2 separate regions of the Homo sapiens genome follow, and region 2 is linked to region 1. A link means that fine-mapping ties the variant in region 1 to the expression of a gene that starts in the linked region. Tissue or cell type: fibroblasts. Region 1 holds a variant in brackets; the other region holds the start of a gene. All regions are shown on one strand. Distances are from middle to middle.

The links. PIP is the estimated chance that this variant, and not a neighbour inherited with it, causes the effect.
Region 2: FBLN1 starts here. The variant in region 1 is fine-mapped to the expression of FBLN1 in fibroblasts (GTEx, PIP 0.94).

The regions. Positions count from the first base shown.
Region 1 is chr22:45,436,787-45,444,963 of GRCh38, forward strand. No RefSeq gene overlaps it. Among named protein-coding and RNA genes, the nearest start is that of RIBC2, 27 kb to the left of the region's middle. RefSeq lists an enhancer at 5,565-6,127. The variant CA/C (reference allele first, on the strand shown) is at 4,295.
Region 2 is chr22:45,497,889-45,506,065 of GRCh38, forward strand. It overlaps FBLN1 (fibulin 1), which reads left to right and starts at 4,995. Exons shown (of 17, transcript NM_006486.3): 1 at 4,995-5,176. The coding sequence starts at 5,098. It overlaps LOC105373066 (a long non-coding RNA gene), which reads right to left and starts at 3,099. Exons shown (of 3, transcript XR_938305.2): 1 at 2,908-3,099; 2 at 876-941; 3 at 382-632. RefSeq lists enhancers at 1,370-2,006, 5,609-6,222, 6,223-6,836, 6,837-7,450, 7,451-8,064 and 1 more.

The DNA of each region.
Region 1 (8,177 bases):
GGGTGGGCGTGGGCTTGGCGGGCCGCGCACTCGGAGCAGCCGGCCAGCCCTGCCGGCCCCGCGCAGTGAGGAGCTTAGCACCCGGGCCAGTGGCTGCGGAGGGTGTACTGGGTCCCCCAGCAGTGCCGGCCCACTGGCGCTGCGCTCCATTTCTCAGCGGGCCTTAGCTGCCTTCCCGCGGGGCAGGGCTCGGGACCTGCAGCCCGCCATGCCTGAGCCTCCCACCCCCTCCATGAGCTCCTGTGCGGCCCAAGCCTCCCCGACGAGCGCCGCCCCGTGCTCCACGGCGCCCAGTCCCATCGACCGCCCAAGGGCTGAGGAGTGCGAGCGCACGGCGCGGGACTAGCAGGCAGCTCCACCTGCAGCCCCGGTGCGGAATCCACTGGATGAAGCCAGCTGGGCTCCTGAGTCTGATGGGGACGTGGAGAACCTTTGTATCTAGCTCAGGGATTGTAAACGCACCAATCAGCGCCCTGTCAAAACAGGCCACTGGGCTCTACCAATCAGCAGGATGTGGGTGGGGCCAGATAAGAGAATAAAAGCAGGCTGCCCAAGCCAGCAGTGGTAACCCGCTCGGGTTCCCTTCCACTCTGTGGGAGCTTTGTTCTTTTGCTCTTTGCAATAAATCTTGCTACTGCTCACTCTCTGGGTCCACACTGCTTCACCGCGAAGATCTGCAGCTTCACTCCTGAGCAAGCGAGACCACAAACCCACCAGAAGGAAGAAACTCCGAACACATCCGAACATCAGAAGGAACAAACTCCAGACGCGCCACCTTAAGAGCTGTAACACTCACCGCGAGGGTTCCCGGCTTCATTCTTGAAGTCCAAGAACCCACCAGTTCTGGACACACTAGCTCTCCACAGACTGGCTTTTAAAAATTCTAGTTATATATACGCCACTTACAAAAGGCACATCTAAAACAAAACAGCACAGAAAAATTATAATAATAGCGTTCAAAAGCCATTTGTATTTGCCCAAATGACGTATGTCCACACTTGTGTCTGGCACATGGGTGTCTACAGGAGCTGTATTCATAATTGCCAAAACCGGGAAGCAAGCAACGTGTTCTTCAATAAGTTAATGGATAAAAACACTGTGGTACCTCCAGACAATGGAGTCTTATTAATATAAGATATAATAATAAGAAAAGAGCTATCAAGCCACAAGAAAATGTGGAAGAAGCTTAAATGCATATTGCTTGGTGAAAGAAGTCAATCTGCAAAGGTTATCTACTGTATGAGTCCAATCATATGACTTTTTTTTTTTTTTGAGGAGTCTCCCTCTGTTGCCTAGCCTGGAGCGCAGTGGCACCGTCTTGGCTCACTGAAACCTCCGCCTCCCAGGTTCAAGCGATTCTCCTGCCTCAGCCTCCCAAGTAGCTGGGACTACAGGCGTGCACCACCACGCCCGTCTAATTTTTGTATTTTTAGTAGAGTTGGGTTTCACTGTGTTGGCCAGGCTGGTATTGAACTCCTGACCTCAGATGATCCACCCACCTTGGCCTCCCAAAGTGTTGGGATTACGGCATGAGCCACTGCACCCAGCCTGACTTTTCAAAAAAGGCAAAGCTATAGAAACAGTAAAAACATCAGTGGTTGCCAGGGACTGAGGGGAGGGAGGGATGAATAGGCAGAGAGAGCACAAGGATTTTTAGGGCAGTGAAACTTTGCTGTGTGATGCTGTAACCTTGGGTATATGTCATTATACATTTGTCAAAATCCACAGAATGTACACAGGGTGACCCCTAATGTAAATTATAAACTCTGGGTGATGATGATGTGTCAATGTTGGCTAGTCAATTGTAACAAATGTACCACACTAACATGAGACATTAATAATAGGGGAACTAGGGGCCTATGGGAAGGGAGCATATGGGAACCCTCTATACTTGTTACTCAATTTTCTTGTAAACCTAACACTGTTCTAAAAGATAGCCTATTCATTTTAAAATGAAGCCATAAGATAAACAGGAAGAAAAATAGAGTCATTTGCACATGGTTCTTTATTCTGTGTTCAAGTTCTTATGTTTAGAATAATGGGAAGGGGGCCAGGCACGGTGGCTCATGCCTGTAATCCCAGCACTTTGGGAGGTCGAAGTGGGAAGATGACCTGAGGTCAGGAGTTTGAGACCAGCCTGGCCAACATGGTGAAACCCTGTCTCTACTAAAAATACAAACTAGCCAGGCATGATGGTGCGCACCTGTAATCCCAGCTACTCAGGAGGCTGAGGCAGGAGAATCTCTTGAGCCCGGGAAGCGGAGGTTGCAGTGAGCTGAGGTCACACCACTGTACTCCAACCTGGGCAACACAGCAAGACTCTGTCTACAAAAATAAAAATAAGGCCAGGTGCTGTGGCTCGCGCCTGTAATCCCAGCACTTTGGGAGGCCAAGGTGGGCAGATCACGAGGTCAGGAGATTGAGACCATCCTGGCTAACACGGTGAAACCCCATCTCTACTACAAATACAAAAAAATTAGCCGGGCATGGTGTCGGGTGCCTATTGTCCCAGCTACTCAGGGGGCTAAGGCAGGAGAATGGCATGAACCTGGGAGGTGGAGATTGCAGTGAGCCGAAATCATGCCACTGCACTCCAGCCTGGGCAACAGAGTGAGACTCCATCTCAAAAAATAAAAAATAAAAATAAATAAATAACATAAAAATAAGGCCAGGTGCGGTAGCTCACGCCTGTAATCCCAGCACTTTGGGACACCGAAGCAGGTGGATCACGAGGTCAGGAGTTCAGGACCAGCCTGGTCAACATAGCGAGACCTCGTCTCTACAAAAAATTTAAAAAATTTTAGGCCGGGTACAGTGGCTCATGCCTGTAATCTCAGAACTTTGGGAGGCTGAGGCAGGTGGATTACCTGAGGTCAGGAGTTTGAGACCAGCCTGGCCAACATGGTGAAACCCTGACTCTACTAAAAATACAAAAATTAGCCAGGTGTGGAGGTGCACACCTGTAGTCCTAGCTACTCAGGAGGCAGAGGCATGAGAATCACTTGAACCAGGGAGGTGGATGTTGCAGTGAGCTGAGATCATGCCACTTCATTCCAGCCTCGGGTACAGAGTGAGACTCTGTCTCAAAAAAACAAGCAAAAAATCACAAAAAGACCTTTACAGAAATGTTTATAGCATCTTTATTCATGATAGCACCAAACTTGGATCAACCAAAATATCTATCAACAGGTGATCAGATAAACAAAAGTTATATTCCTATCACTCACAGCTGAAAAGAAACAAACTGCTGATATACCCGTCAAAACGGCAGAATCAGAAATCATAATCAGGGCGGGGCGCAGTGGCTCAGGCCTGTAATCCCAGCACTTTGGGAGGCCAAGGGGGCAGATCACGAGGTCAGGAGATCAAGACCAACCTGGCTAACATGGTGAAACCCCATCGCTACTAAAAACACAAAAAATTAGCCGGGCGTGGTGGCATGTGCCTGTACTCCCAGCTACTCAGGAGGCTGAGGCATGAGAATTGCTTGAACCCGGGAGGTGGACGTTGCAGTGAGCCAAGATTACGCCACTGCGCTACAGCCTGGGCAACAGAGCAAGACTCCATCTCAAAAAAATAAATAAATGAAATAAAAAATAAAAATAAAAAATTAGCTGGGCATGGTGGTGAGGGGTGGGGTGGGGGGTGTTCCTGTAATACCAGCTACTTGGGAGGCTGAGGCAGGAGAATTGCTTGAACCCGGGAGGCAGAGGTTACAGTGAGCCAAGATCGCACCACTGCCCTCCAGCCTGGGTGACAAGAGCGAAATTCTGTCTCAAAAAAAAAAATCATAATCAGAAACATTGTAACAGATACAAAGGAGTTCACAGTTTACAATTCTATCTATGGGGAGTTCCAGAATTGGGATAACTATTCCATCAGTGCTTGCCTGGGACAGGGTGAGGGGGTTTGATGGCAAACAGGCATGAGGCTACTTTTTGGAGTGATGGAAACGGACAGAAAAAGAAAACCCAACCACACTCCTACCCCTGACAGGACTGCAAAGGGAGGACCCCTAAGAAACCGGGTACCATCTGTTATGCATGCAGCAGGACGAGCCGCAGACAAAACTCCTCAGACACTGAGTTAAAGAAGGAAGTGGTTCTTTCGGCCGGGAGCATCAGGTAAGACTCCTGTCTCAAGAGCCGAGCTCCCCCAGTGAGCAATTCCTGTCCCTTTTAAGGGCTCACAACTCTAAGGGGGTCCGCGCGAGAGGGTCGTGATCGATTGAGCAAGCAGGGGGTACATGACTGGGGGCTGCATGCACCGGTAATCAGAAGGAAACAGAACAGGA[CA/C]GGGATTTTTGCAATGCCTTTCCATACAAAGTCTGGAATCTATAGATAACATAACCGGTTAGGTCAGGGTCGATCTTTAACTACCAGGATTAGGTCAGGCAGGCCCAGGCCTGGTTTCGGGTCTGGTTCCTAGGCGCCGGGCTACCTGCATTTCGTTTCGCTTTTCTTTCCTTTTCTGAGTATAAAACAAGATAAAACAATATGAGAGAGTCTGTCTCTCTTCTCTCATGTGCAGTGAGCTGTTGCTGTCTACTGGAGAGCTGTCCACCAGCAGGTGGCACATCTATCTCTCGTGCTCCCAGCATAGCCTCTGGCCATCTGGTTTCCACCTGCACCGGGTCTCCCTCTGCAGAAGCGACAGCCACTTTGGAATGTTGGTGCAATGAGGTGACAGGTCCCCATGCTCCTGGGTGGAGCAGCGTCCTGAGCCTGGTTACAGGAGGGATCATGGGGTGAAGGTTGGGGATGGAGCAGGGGCCTCTAGAGCACCTTTTCCAAAGAGACATGTTTCCTTTTCTTTTCTTTTCTTTTCTTTTTTTTTTTTTTTTTTGGGACAGAGTCTTGCTCTGTCACCACCCAGGCTGGAGTGCAGTGGTGCGATCTCGGCTCACTGCAACCTCCGCCTCCCGGGTTCAAGCGATTCTCCTGCCTCTGCCTCAGCCTCCCAAGTAGCTGGGACTACAGGCGCATACCACCACACCCAGCTAATTTTTTGTATTTTTAGTAGAGACGGGGTTTCACCGCGTTAGCCACAATGGTCTTGATCTCCTGACCTCGTGATCCACCTGACTCGGCCTCCCAAAGTGCTGGGATTACAGGCATGAGCCACCGCGCCCAGCAAGAGGCATCTTTTCAACCATATGGATTGTGCCCACGTGATGTTAAGAGAGTGGTGAAAAGAAGCTGGAGGATGCCGAGTGAGAATGAGGCTGTGAGTGACACAGAGTAGGTAGTTGCCAGGTGGGGCTTCATCTGTGCTTGCCCCGACCAAGTAAAGGCCTTGATCCTCCCCCACCCACCACCTCATCCAGCCCACCCCCAGATTCATGCTCCCCCATCTTCGAACCTCACTTGCTCTCTGCCCAGACCTGGCAAAGTCAGTTTCATCTACTGAGTCTGGAAGGTCTGCCTTCCTTTCTTCTTCCAGCGAATGAAAGATGAATCCAAAGTCCCTGGGGCCAACCCCCAGCATGGCCCCCAGAAGTAAACAGGAATGGGAATGAGGGCAGATGGAATGTCTGCGAGTCAGTGGGTCTTTTCTTTTCACCAGACGTTCCAGAAAGCTCTCCAAACACACTTGTTCTAACAGTGTCAGAAAAGACTCCAGCCTCATTGTCCACAATTGTTGGGGATAGAACATTCCAGAGCCTATTGAAGAAAAAAGTGGGTAGGGCCATCTCCTCCACACCAGGCTGATCTGTGAATTAATCGCCCCTGAAGGTTTTCCCCGGGGCTCTGGAGCTGACAAATGTGACTTTGTTACCTGGATATCCCTTGGAACCTGGCAGAGCCTGAGGACAGGACTCAGCCACAGAGTCTCTCACCCAAAGCCACTCAGTGTCCTCAGCTGCCCATCTGGTAACTGGCCCTAAAACGGCCTTTCAGTTCCAGCACTGCCACCCCTCCCAGCCCCACTGGCCCAGCCTCCTCATTCCCAGCTCAAATTCGTGACCAGGGGGCCTATGGGACCTGGTCGTCTTTTCAGATGGACAGTCCCTAGGTCAAGGCCCACTCCCTGGCCCCATCCTCGCATGGGGAGAGTCGGCTCATAGTATATTCAGAGGCAAAAAGGGCGGTGGGCTTGCAGCACCAATAAACATGTCCAGCAAAATATGCTGATGGTGTACATGGCTGCTGCTTGCTGAGCCCGTGTGTGCTGATGCCACAGAGCTGAGCTTCTTAAAATCTGCAGGAGGCTGCCGGGTGCGATGGCTCACGCCTGTGATCCCAGCACTTTTGGGAGGCCGAGGCGGGTAGATCACCTGAGGTCAGGAGTTCGAGACCAGCCTGACCAACATAGAGAAACCCCATCTCTACTAAAAATACAAAATTAGCCAGGTGTAGTGGAGCATGCCTGTAATTCCAGCTACTCGGGAGGCTGAGGCAGGAGAATTGCTTGAACCCAGGAGGCGGAGGTTGCGGTAAGCTGAGATTGCACCTTTGCACTCCAGCCTGGGCAACAAGAGCAAAACTCCGTCTCAAAAAAAAAAAAAAAAAAAAACCTGCAGGAGGCTACAAGAAGTGTTACCAGTTTCATATCCCCAATGAGGATGAGGAATGTGAACACAAAGTACCTAAGACAAGTCTCAATCCATTTAGAAAGTTTATTTTGTACCTGGGCTTGGTGGCTCGTGCCTGTAATCCCAGCACTTTGGGAGGCTGAGGCAGGCAGATCACCTGAGGTTACGAGTTCAAGACCAGCCTGGCCAACATGGTGAAACCTCGTCTCTACTAAAAAGACAAAATTAGCTGGGCATGGTGGCAGGTGCCTGTAGTCCCAGCTACTTGGGAGGCTGAGGCAGGAGAATCACTTGAACCTGGGAGGCAGAGGTTGCAGTGAGCCAAGATCATGCCACTGCACTCCAGCCTGGGCAACAAGAGCGAAACTCTGTCTCCCAAAAAAAAAAAAAAGGAAAGAAAGTTTATTTTGCCAAGGTTAAGGACGTGTCTGTGACACAGCCTCAGGAGGTCCTGCTGACATGTGCCCAAGGAGGTTGTGGTATAGCTTGCTTTTACACATTTTTGGGAGACATGAGGCATGAATCAATATGTGTAAGATGTACATTGCTTCAGTTTGGAAACGCAGGACAACTGGAAGCAGGGATTTCCAGGTCATAGGCATATAAAAGATAAATGGGTGCATCCTTTTGAGTCTTTGATCAGCCTTTCACTGAATACACAATTTCCATGTGAGCAGAGGGTAGAGGAGTAGTCCTGTGTGCCCTAGTCTGGCTCAGTGAATCTGCATTTTCACATAAACAATAGGGCAGAGGAAGCAATCAAGCAATCATATATGCATTTGTCTCAGGTGGGCAGAGGCCTGATGGTGAGTTCTGTCCTTTGTCCCACATCTGTGAAGATAAGCTATCAATTTACATTGCCAGGGTGAAATTCAACAGAACTGTTTTAGGGTAAAGATCCTGAGGCCCACAAGGAATTTCCTTGTGGGCAAATTGGGAGGGAGGTATGCAGCTTGTTTATCTTTGTAGCTATCTTATCTAGGAAGAAAATGGGAGGCAAGTTTGCGTGATGCAGTTCCCAGCTTGACTTTTCCCCTTGACTTTGCGATTTTGGAGTCCTGCGATTTTCCTTTCACAAGAACTAAGGGCTAGAGAGGGGAACTCACTTTCCCAAGGTCCCAGAGCCAGTTCAAGATGGAGCCAGGAATTGTGCCCAGTTCTAAAGTCCCAGCTACCTCTGACAGAATGCCTGCAAGGAGACAGTCAGCAGAGCTCCAGGAGGGGAAGACAGGTGACAACACTCTAGTGTATTTCTCTAGCTTGACCTCTGCTGTGAGTTCCAGGCTTGGTACCCAAATGTCGACTTGATAGCTTTACTGGGATGTCTAACAAGCAGGCAGTCAACATGAAGGCATCTGAACAGAACTGGTTTCCCTCTACCCACACCTGTCCCTCCAAAGTCTTCCCTGTCTTAGGCTATGGAAACCCCAATGCTTCCAATTGCTCAGGCCAGAGAGTTTGGATCCATCGTTGGGCTCTCTCTCTCTCAATCTATCAGCAAATCCTGTTGGTAAGACTTCAAAATATAAAACAAATCTGGCCAGCCACGGTGGCTCACGCCTGTAATCCCAACACTTTGGGAGGCCGAGGTGGGTGGATCATCTGAGGTCAGGAGTTCGAGACCAGCCTGGCCAACATAGTG
Region 2 (8,177 bases), 61 kb after region 1:
CTGATGATTAAAAACATACTTTGAAAGAAGATAAGAGTTTCTTTTCCCTGTGGAAATAGCTCAGATTAAACAACGAGGTGACACAATGCTGGCTGGAAGTGGAGAGACTCACAGCTGCTGTGTCTCTCTCTGGATTGTGAATTTGTCAGTTTCTTGGTGCAGCACTTACTCTTCTAGGCCATTCCTGCTGGGAGCCGCAGAGGTACAGCTGAACCTGGAGCGCACAGGTTTCACGGCAGCATCATTTCTAACGCTGCAAAGTTTAAATGACGAAAATGTCCCCTAATAAGAGAGTGAGTGGTTAAGTAAATGTGTATGCGACTTCTAAACATATCCACTCACTGGATATGTAATGGAGATTTCTAATAAGACAGGGAAATGTTACAATGCTATAATTTTTATTGAAAAACAGAACCCAAGATACAAAGGGAGTCAGATGACCTCCATTCAAATAGAGGCACTGCCAATCTCCAGTTCTGAGACTCCTGGGTCAGAGACAGGGACTTTATTAGTTGCAGTAAAATAATAGCTGCAGTTTAAGCATGGTGTTCACATGAGTTCCTTGTGTCTTCCAAGTCCTAGGGTCGGTGTGGAGTGGGCGAGGTCAAGGGCCCATCATGGATGGTGGATGCCTGCACACACAATGGGCTGCATTACACAGGAGAACACTGAGTTTGGGGAATTTACCGATTTTCCGGTAAACTTGTCCAGAGGGAGATGGTACCTCCTCCTTTGAGGTTGCTTTTTGCAAACACGACCCTGAGACACGGGTACAGAGTGACCAGGGCTTTGCATTTGTGGCATACTCAGCAAGAATGTGCAGGAATGCCCGTGCCCATGATGGGTTCTTCTCCCAGCACCTGGGTGTGGCTCACCTGGACTGCAAGAATCTCAGGCCTATGATCTTCCAGTGGGCCTCTGGAAGCTGGATGTGCTGAGAACTAGAGAAGGGGGCCGAGAGTCAGCCTGGGTTTTGGGGTCTGAAGCATGCTTAGAAGCATCCTGGTCCATCTCCTGCATTTTGCAGATAGGGAAACTGAGGCCCAGAAAGGGACTTGCCCAGAGCCAGACAGTGAATGAGGAGGGGGTCAGGACTGGTGCTCCCCTGTGTGGTCCTGAAGGCACATCACTGTCACCACCAGCACAGCAGCTGACAGTGATTACATTACAGAGTTTTCTCTGTGGGGCTTATGTGATGAGAGTCAGCATCTCCTTCAATTCTCACGACCGTGCAAAGTGCAAAGTCCTAATCCTTGCCCCACGTGACAGATGAGGAAACAAGGTACCAAGAAGTCAAATGCTCAATGCCACAGAGCCAGAGAGTAGCGAGCTTGGATTGGAACCCAGGTGGTCTGGCCTCAGACCCTGTCCCAGGCTGTCAGGACCTCTAGCTTGTCCTGGGGGATAGGGGTCCATGGTGGTGCCTACTTCCCTGACACCCAGTGCCTGGCTTTCCAAGTCACCAGCCACAGGGACAAGAGGATGTGGAGAGGCCATGGAGGACAGGCCTGGGATGAGGACTAGAGTGAGTGCCTAAAAAGGGGGCGCCTTGGCTGGGCGCCACGGCTCACGCCTGTAATCCTAGCACTTTGGGAGGCTGAGGCAGGCGGATCACAAGGTCAGGAGTTCGAGACCAGTTTGACCAACACAGTGAAACCCCGTCTCTACTAAAAATACAAAAAATTAGCTGGGTTTGATGGTGTGTGCCTGTAATCCCAGCTACCCCCGAGCCTGAGGCAGGACAATTGCGTGAACCCGGCAGACAGAGGTTGCAGTGAGCCAAGATCGTGGCATTGCACTCCAGCCTGGGTGACAGTGTGAGACTTGCCTCAAAAAAAAAAAAAAAAAAAAAAAATGGTGGGGGCTGTGCCTCAGAACAGGAGTAAGCTCTTGAAGCTTCAGGAAAGGCTGGGAGAGGCCAGGTTTCCATGTCCTCTCTCCTGGCTCTGGCCTCCCTCCCCAGCTGTTGCAGGCTTGGCTCAGCCCTCCTCCTCCCAGCAGTCCCTCTGCCTGCCTAGGGCAGTGTCAGTGCCTAGCTGAATGTAGGAGTCACCTCCTCCTACTGTCCCTGTTTCCTCATCCCCACCCCCTTCTCAGCCACCCACAACACAGCCACTCCCTCCCCATCCCCAGAAAGGGCCCCGGTCACATCGCCAGCGGCCACCTGCTCCATCCCCATTGGGACTTCTCAGTCCTGGCTTCACTGAGCACTGGGCCACACTGGGCAGTCCCAGCCAGAATCACTTTTTTTTTGCTATCACCCAGGCTGGAGTGCAGTGGTACAATCTTGGCTCACTGCAACCTCCGCCTTCAGGGTTCAAGCAACTCTCCTGCCTCAGTCTCCCAAGTAGCTGGGACTACAGGCATGCACCACGATGCCCAGCTAATTTTTGTATTTTTAGTGGAGATGGGGTTTCATCATATTGGCCAGGTTGGTCTCGAACCCCTGACCTCAAGTGATCCACCCACCTCGGCCTCCCATAGTGTTGGGATTACAGGCATGAGCCACCACGCCCTGCCCAGAATCACTTTTTGATTCCTTCTTGGATATTGCCTTCTCCTGGTTTCCTTCTACCCCTCTGCCTGTTTCTACGTCTTCTTTCTGAATCCCCCAGGTCCCCTGGTTCCCCCTTCGCCCTCCACCACCTTCCCTTAGTCATCTAGACTCCTTCCAGGGCACCCCATTCTCCGATGGCTTAAACGAATTAAGTTAATACCAAAGTAGTAATGAGTTCCCAACCTGTTCCAACTCAGAAATGCCTCCCTCGGGCCATCTGCTGATGTGCTGTTTCCGCACCCCACCCCATCCAAAGTCAAAACGGACCAGGATCTCTGGTGCCTCCAAACTTTTGCAGAGACATCAGGAAAGCTGGCACCACCAAGGAAACCCTTCCCACCTCTGCTCACCTTTCACTGGCCAGTCGCATGTCACCTCTTCCTGAGGGGCCTCCTTAACCTCAGAGGCGTGAGCATGCTGGTCCCCTTGGTAAGCTTTCCTGGGCTCTCTGCAAACTTCAAACTTATAAGACACCCTGTGGGGAGATGAGTTCTTGTCCTTTTGTTTTTCATTTTAAAATTTAACATGTGACCGGGCACGGTGACTCACGCCTGTAATCTCAGCACTTTGGGAGGACAAGGCGGGTGGATCACCTGATGTCGGGAGTTCAAGACCAGCCTGACCAACACGGAGAAACCCCGTCTCTACTAAAAATACAAAATTTGCCAGGCGTGGTGGTGCATGCCTGTAGTCCCAGCTACTCAGGAGGCTGAGGCAGGAGAATCGCTTGAACCCGGGAGGTGGAGGTTGCAGTGGGCTGAGATTGCGCCACTGCACTCCAGCCTGGGCAACAAAAGCAAAACACCATCTCAAAAAAACAGAAAGAAACAACATGTATTCAGAAAAGGGCACGTACCATAAATGAACAGCTCAATAAATTCTCACAAACTGAGCCCAACCTTGTAACCAATACCCAGAGTAAGAAAGCTGAACCTAACCAGCCCCCGAAAGCCCAGCACGCTCCCACTCCAGGATCACCACTCTCCTGACCTCTGAACTGTTCTTGCCTTTTTTTTTTTTTTTTTTTTTTTTTGAGACGGAGTCTCACTCCGCCGCCCAGGCTGGAGTGCAGTGGTGAGATCTCGGCTCACTGCAACCTCCGTCTCCCGGGTTCAGGCGATTCTCCTGCCTCAGCCTCCCGAGTAGCTGGGACTACAGGTGTGCACCACCATGCCTGGCTAATTTATTTTTATTTTTATTTTTAGTAGAGACAGGGTTTCACCATGTTGGCCAGGCTGGTTTCGAACTCCTGACCTCAGGCAATCCGCCCACTTCATCCTCCCAAAGTGCTGGGATTACAGGTGTGAGCCACCGCCACCGGCCTGTTCTTGCCTTTTATGTAAATGGAATCATGCAGCGAGTGTTCCTTTGTGGCTGACTCTATTACTCTGACTTACGTCTGTGAGATTTACCCGTTATGTGAGTTGCGGATCATTCACTCCTGTTCCGTTTGTCGTGCTCCTAAGCCCGAATACTCCACGATATTCATCTGCCTTGATGACGCTAGGCTTCCCAATTGGAGGAATTATGAATGTGCGGCTACATGTCTTTCTGTCTTTTGGAGCACATGTTGTATGCGTTTCTGCTGAGTGTAAGGCTGGGCGGGGCGTCGGTGGCTCAAGGGGTCCATGGTGAACTCACAGGAACACCGCTTTGAGCTGCCCAGTGGCGTTCCTATGCGTCTCATCCAGTTCCTCCGCATCTTCACCTGCACCATTTTATTCTTCTTCTTTGGAAAATAAATCTACTTGTGGTTCCAAAGCCTAACTCATCCTCAGTAACCCCGGTAGCTATGAATTCCTATACAAGAGGCTCCCGCAGGCCCAGCGCCAAAGCTGCCTCCCCTGCAGCCTCGGTGACTTCCCGGGTCTCTCCCTCCGGCCCTGGTGTCCCGGGTGAGCCCAGCACACGTTGGGATTTTGGTTGTTTGTTGGCCTGGCCCGACTGTCCCTGTCTCTGAGGGCAGAGTCGGGTCCCATCCCGGGACACGCCTGGGGTTAGCCACCGACCTGCAGCCTCCCGGCCGAGGGTGCGGGGTTGGCGGTAAGGCCTGCCCCAGTGCCCCCCAGCAGCCGGGCCTCCGACTGCAGGCCCGGGTCCCCGCTCCTCCGCGCGGAGTCGGGCGGGGATAACCTTTGATCCCGAGCCCTCCCCTCGAGAGGGGGTGGGGGGAGGAGGGGATCGGGTTTCACGGAGTGTTGGGGGATAGGACTGGGGGCATCCGGCCCGAAGGCGCCCCCTCTGTGCCCCCTCCGGGGAAGTCTGGGATCCAGGCCCTCGCCCCCAGCCGTGGGCGCGCGCCCCTCGCAGCCGGGGTCCGGGGAGGGAGGGTCCCGGCAGGGGGCGCCGGGGAGGGAGGACCAGGAGACCCGCGGCCCCGCCTCCGCCGCGCCCTCCTCCCGGGCGGGATAATTGAACGGCGCGGCCCTGGCCCAGCGTTGGCTGCCGAGGCTCGGCCGGAGCGTGGAGCCCGCGCCGCTGCCCCAGGACCGCGCCCGCGCCTTTGTCCGCCGCCGCCCACCGCCCGTCGCCCGCCGCCCATGGAGCGCGCCGCGCCGTCGCGCCGGGTCCCGCTTCCGCTGCTGCTGCTCGGCGGCCTTGCGCTGCTGGCGGCCGGAGGTAGGGGCGTCCCGGGTCCGCCGCCCCAGCTTAGGGTCCCGACCCCCTCGGCCTCGCGCTCCCTGCGAGTTTCGGAACCACGGGGACTCGGAGTCCGTGCGTTGCCCTGCGCGGCGCCCCCGGACTGTCAGCGCCGAGGCCTCGGCGACGCCCCCCTCCCCCACGGCCAGCTCCGGTCCTCATCTCCTCCCCGGCCTGGGGACTTGTTTCAAAACCGGATTCCCCCACCCCTCAAACACACCGTCCTACCCCAGTCCTAGCAAATCCAGCCGGCTCCGGGGGCCGCATCCCGGGCCCTGGGGGTTCAGGGGCGCTAGCTGGGCTGGGGGACGCTGGCTGGGGGTTACCGAGCCCAGGGCGCCTTGCACTTGACGCTGGAAGCGCCCTCGGCTATCTTTCCTCACCGCTTCCCGCCTCCACCCCCAGGTAGGAGCTGTTGTACCCAGCTTGCGGATGTGAAACTTGAGCCTGGAGGGTGGGAAGCAGTCTTTTCCCCAGGAGACACTAGCGGTCCTGGGATAGGGGCTGGAGAGGAAGAAATGAGAAAGCCAGGGAGCAGCCTGGAGGTTTTTGGGGCGTAGCTGGGAGGATGGAGGGGATGCGGACCTGGCCACCTCCTCCCTGCCTCCCTCCCGGGACAGAGGGCCCAAGGCAGTGGTTCTGCCGGGCTCGGTGCTCAGCGGGGACTGGGGACTGGTCACTTCCACCAACGGCAAGGGGGATGGAGTTTTCCAAGAGCAGATCTGATCGATGGCCCAGACCTTAGGCCCCAACTCTGGGACTGACAGCTCCGGGACAGTGCCCACCCAGCCCGCGCTTTTCTCCCCTCTAACCCTCAAGGCCTGGTCCCTGGGGGGACTGCCACGAGGTCCTCTGATCAGAGCAGCTGCTGGGCGGCAGAGCTATGACCTGTGACCTCTCTGCTGACCCGTGGCTTCTCAGAGCCACTAGCCAGGCCCGGCACTCCTGGCGTCTTTGTTTCTCCAGTGGCCCAGGTCCAGGGGAGTGCCCTAGACCACCCTCAGAATCCGAGTCTTAATCCCTGGTTTAGTTGAGTTCCTTTTAACCTCTGGTGACCGCCTTTGTTAGTCAAAAGGTCGCTTGTCCCAACTAATGCTCACTGGGGGATTCCAGGAAGGGGGCTGAAGGGGGCTGGAGGGGGAGGGGAGGCTGGGAGCTGAGCTCTACAGAGCTTTCTTGACTGGCTGGCTGCAGCAGAGCCCTGTGGAGCTCTGATTGTTCAGGCGGTGCTGGGCACGGCCTGGGCACCTCGTGGGGTTGGAGATGGTGTGGGGAGGCGCAGAGCTCAGTGTTGGCACCAGGAGCCTTCGCAGCCCCTGGGGGCTCCCTGGAGGCTCTTTAGAAGAGATGGAGCTTGATGTAAGGGGAGCGCGGGAAGAGGGCATTCCAGCAAGCAGCAGGCCGGGTGGCTGCCAGCTGGAGGGAAAACCCCGAGGGGCCCTGGGTGATGGGTGGGTGGGACATCCGAGACTCCTGTTAGAAAAGGAAGGAGCCTCAGAGGCCCCGATTGTGTCGATGAGGAAGCTGAGGGCCTGAGAGAAGGCGTGGTAAAACTCTCCCTGGCCCCGGAGTCTCTGCGTTCCCTCTCACTGTTCTTTTCTGTCTGCGGTTTGCGAACAATTTCTCCCTATGTGTGTGTGACTGAATGAACACCCCAGGACTTGCGGGCCCAGTGTGGCTCACTGCTGAGCCACAGAGAAGTTTGTAATTGGAAGGGTTTAAAAAAGCCTCCTAATTGCACACTTCGATAAAAGCAGCTGGATGTCCTGTGGGCCTTTTGTTTCTTTTGGGGAGAAGTCTCTTTGAGTTTCAACAGGTTTAATTTGGTACAGTTTGGGAAGGGGCTTTTGAAGACTGCCTGGCCCCTATCTGCAGCTGTGAGGCCCCCGAAGCCCTGTATGTAAGGCCACAAGTGGCACCGCCCCTGCTCTCAGAGAGCTGTGGGGCCGCAGATGGTGAGCCTGTTAGCTGATCTGCAGAAACTCCTTTGGCGACGGCCGCTTAAATGGAGAAGGGCGCTGATCTTTCTTGCCAAACGGCCGAGAGGAGCCGCCTGTCTGTCCTGTGTCTGTCCGTCCCGTTGGGCTTTACTGAGAGCTGGGTGGGAGGGAGTGGAGAGGAGGAGGTGTTAGGAAAAGACGATTGTGTTTTCTCCAAGGCTTTCTTGGCCTCTGGCTGCAGCCGGGCAGCGTTTCCGACTGATTAAAAGAAAGTTGGGAGGGAGAACAAAGGCCAGGGAGGACTTGGCTTGAAAACGTGTGGTCTGTGCCGCCACTCCTGGAAGTTTCCCAGTCAGGAGGTGGGGGCCAGGGCACTGAATGCATGAAGATGAGACTCTGTGCCATGGGGGTCAGGGCTGGGGCCTCTCCTGCAGCACCCACAGCTCTGGCTCACGCCCCGCTCCTGGCCCTGCTGAGTGCCCCCCAACTCAGGGCTGCATTTGCCACCCCTGTTAGGTGTGTAGGGCAGGAGTAGGGGCACGCGGCTGACTCATCTTCAGGTCCTGGAGGGCTCCACGGGCCTTGTGAGACTAGAAATCAGTTTGCATCAGAAAAAGCCATGAGATGGTTTGGTGGTTTTCTCATTTATAAAATGAAGGGAACAAAAACCTACTTAGGTTGTCTTGAGGATTAAGAGAGAGAACATAGGATAGTGTCTACCATGGCAGCTATATTATTATTATTATTATTTTATTTTATTTTTGAGACGGAGTTTCGCTCTTGTCGCCCAGGCTGGAGTGCAATGGCATGATCTCGACTCACTGCAACCTCCGCCTCCCGAGTTGAAGCGATTCTCCTGCTTCAGCCTCCCCAGCAGCTGGGATTGCAGGCGCCCATCACGCCCAGCTAATTTTTGTACTTTTAGTAGAGATGGGGTTTCACCATCTTGGCCAGGCTAGTCTCGAACTCCTGACCTCAGGTGATCCACCTACCTCGGCCTCCCAAAGTGCTGGAATTACAGGTGTGAGCCACCGTGCCGG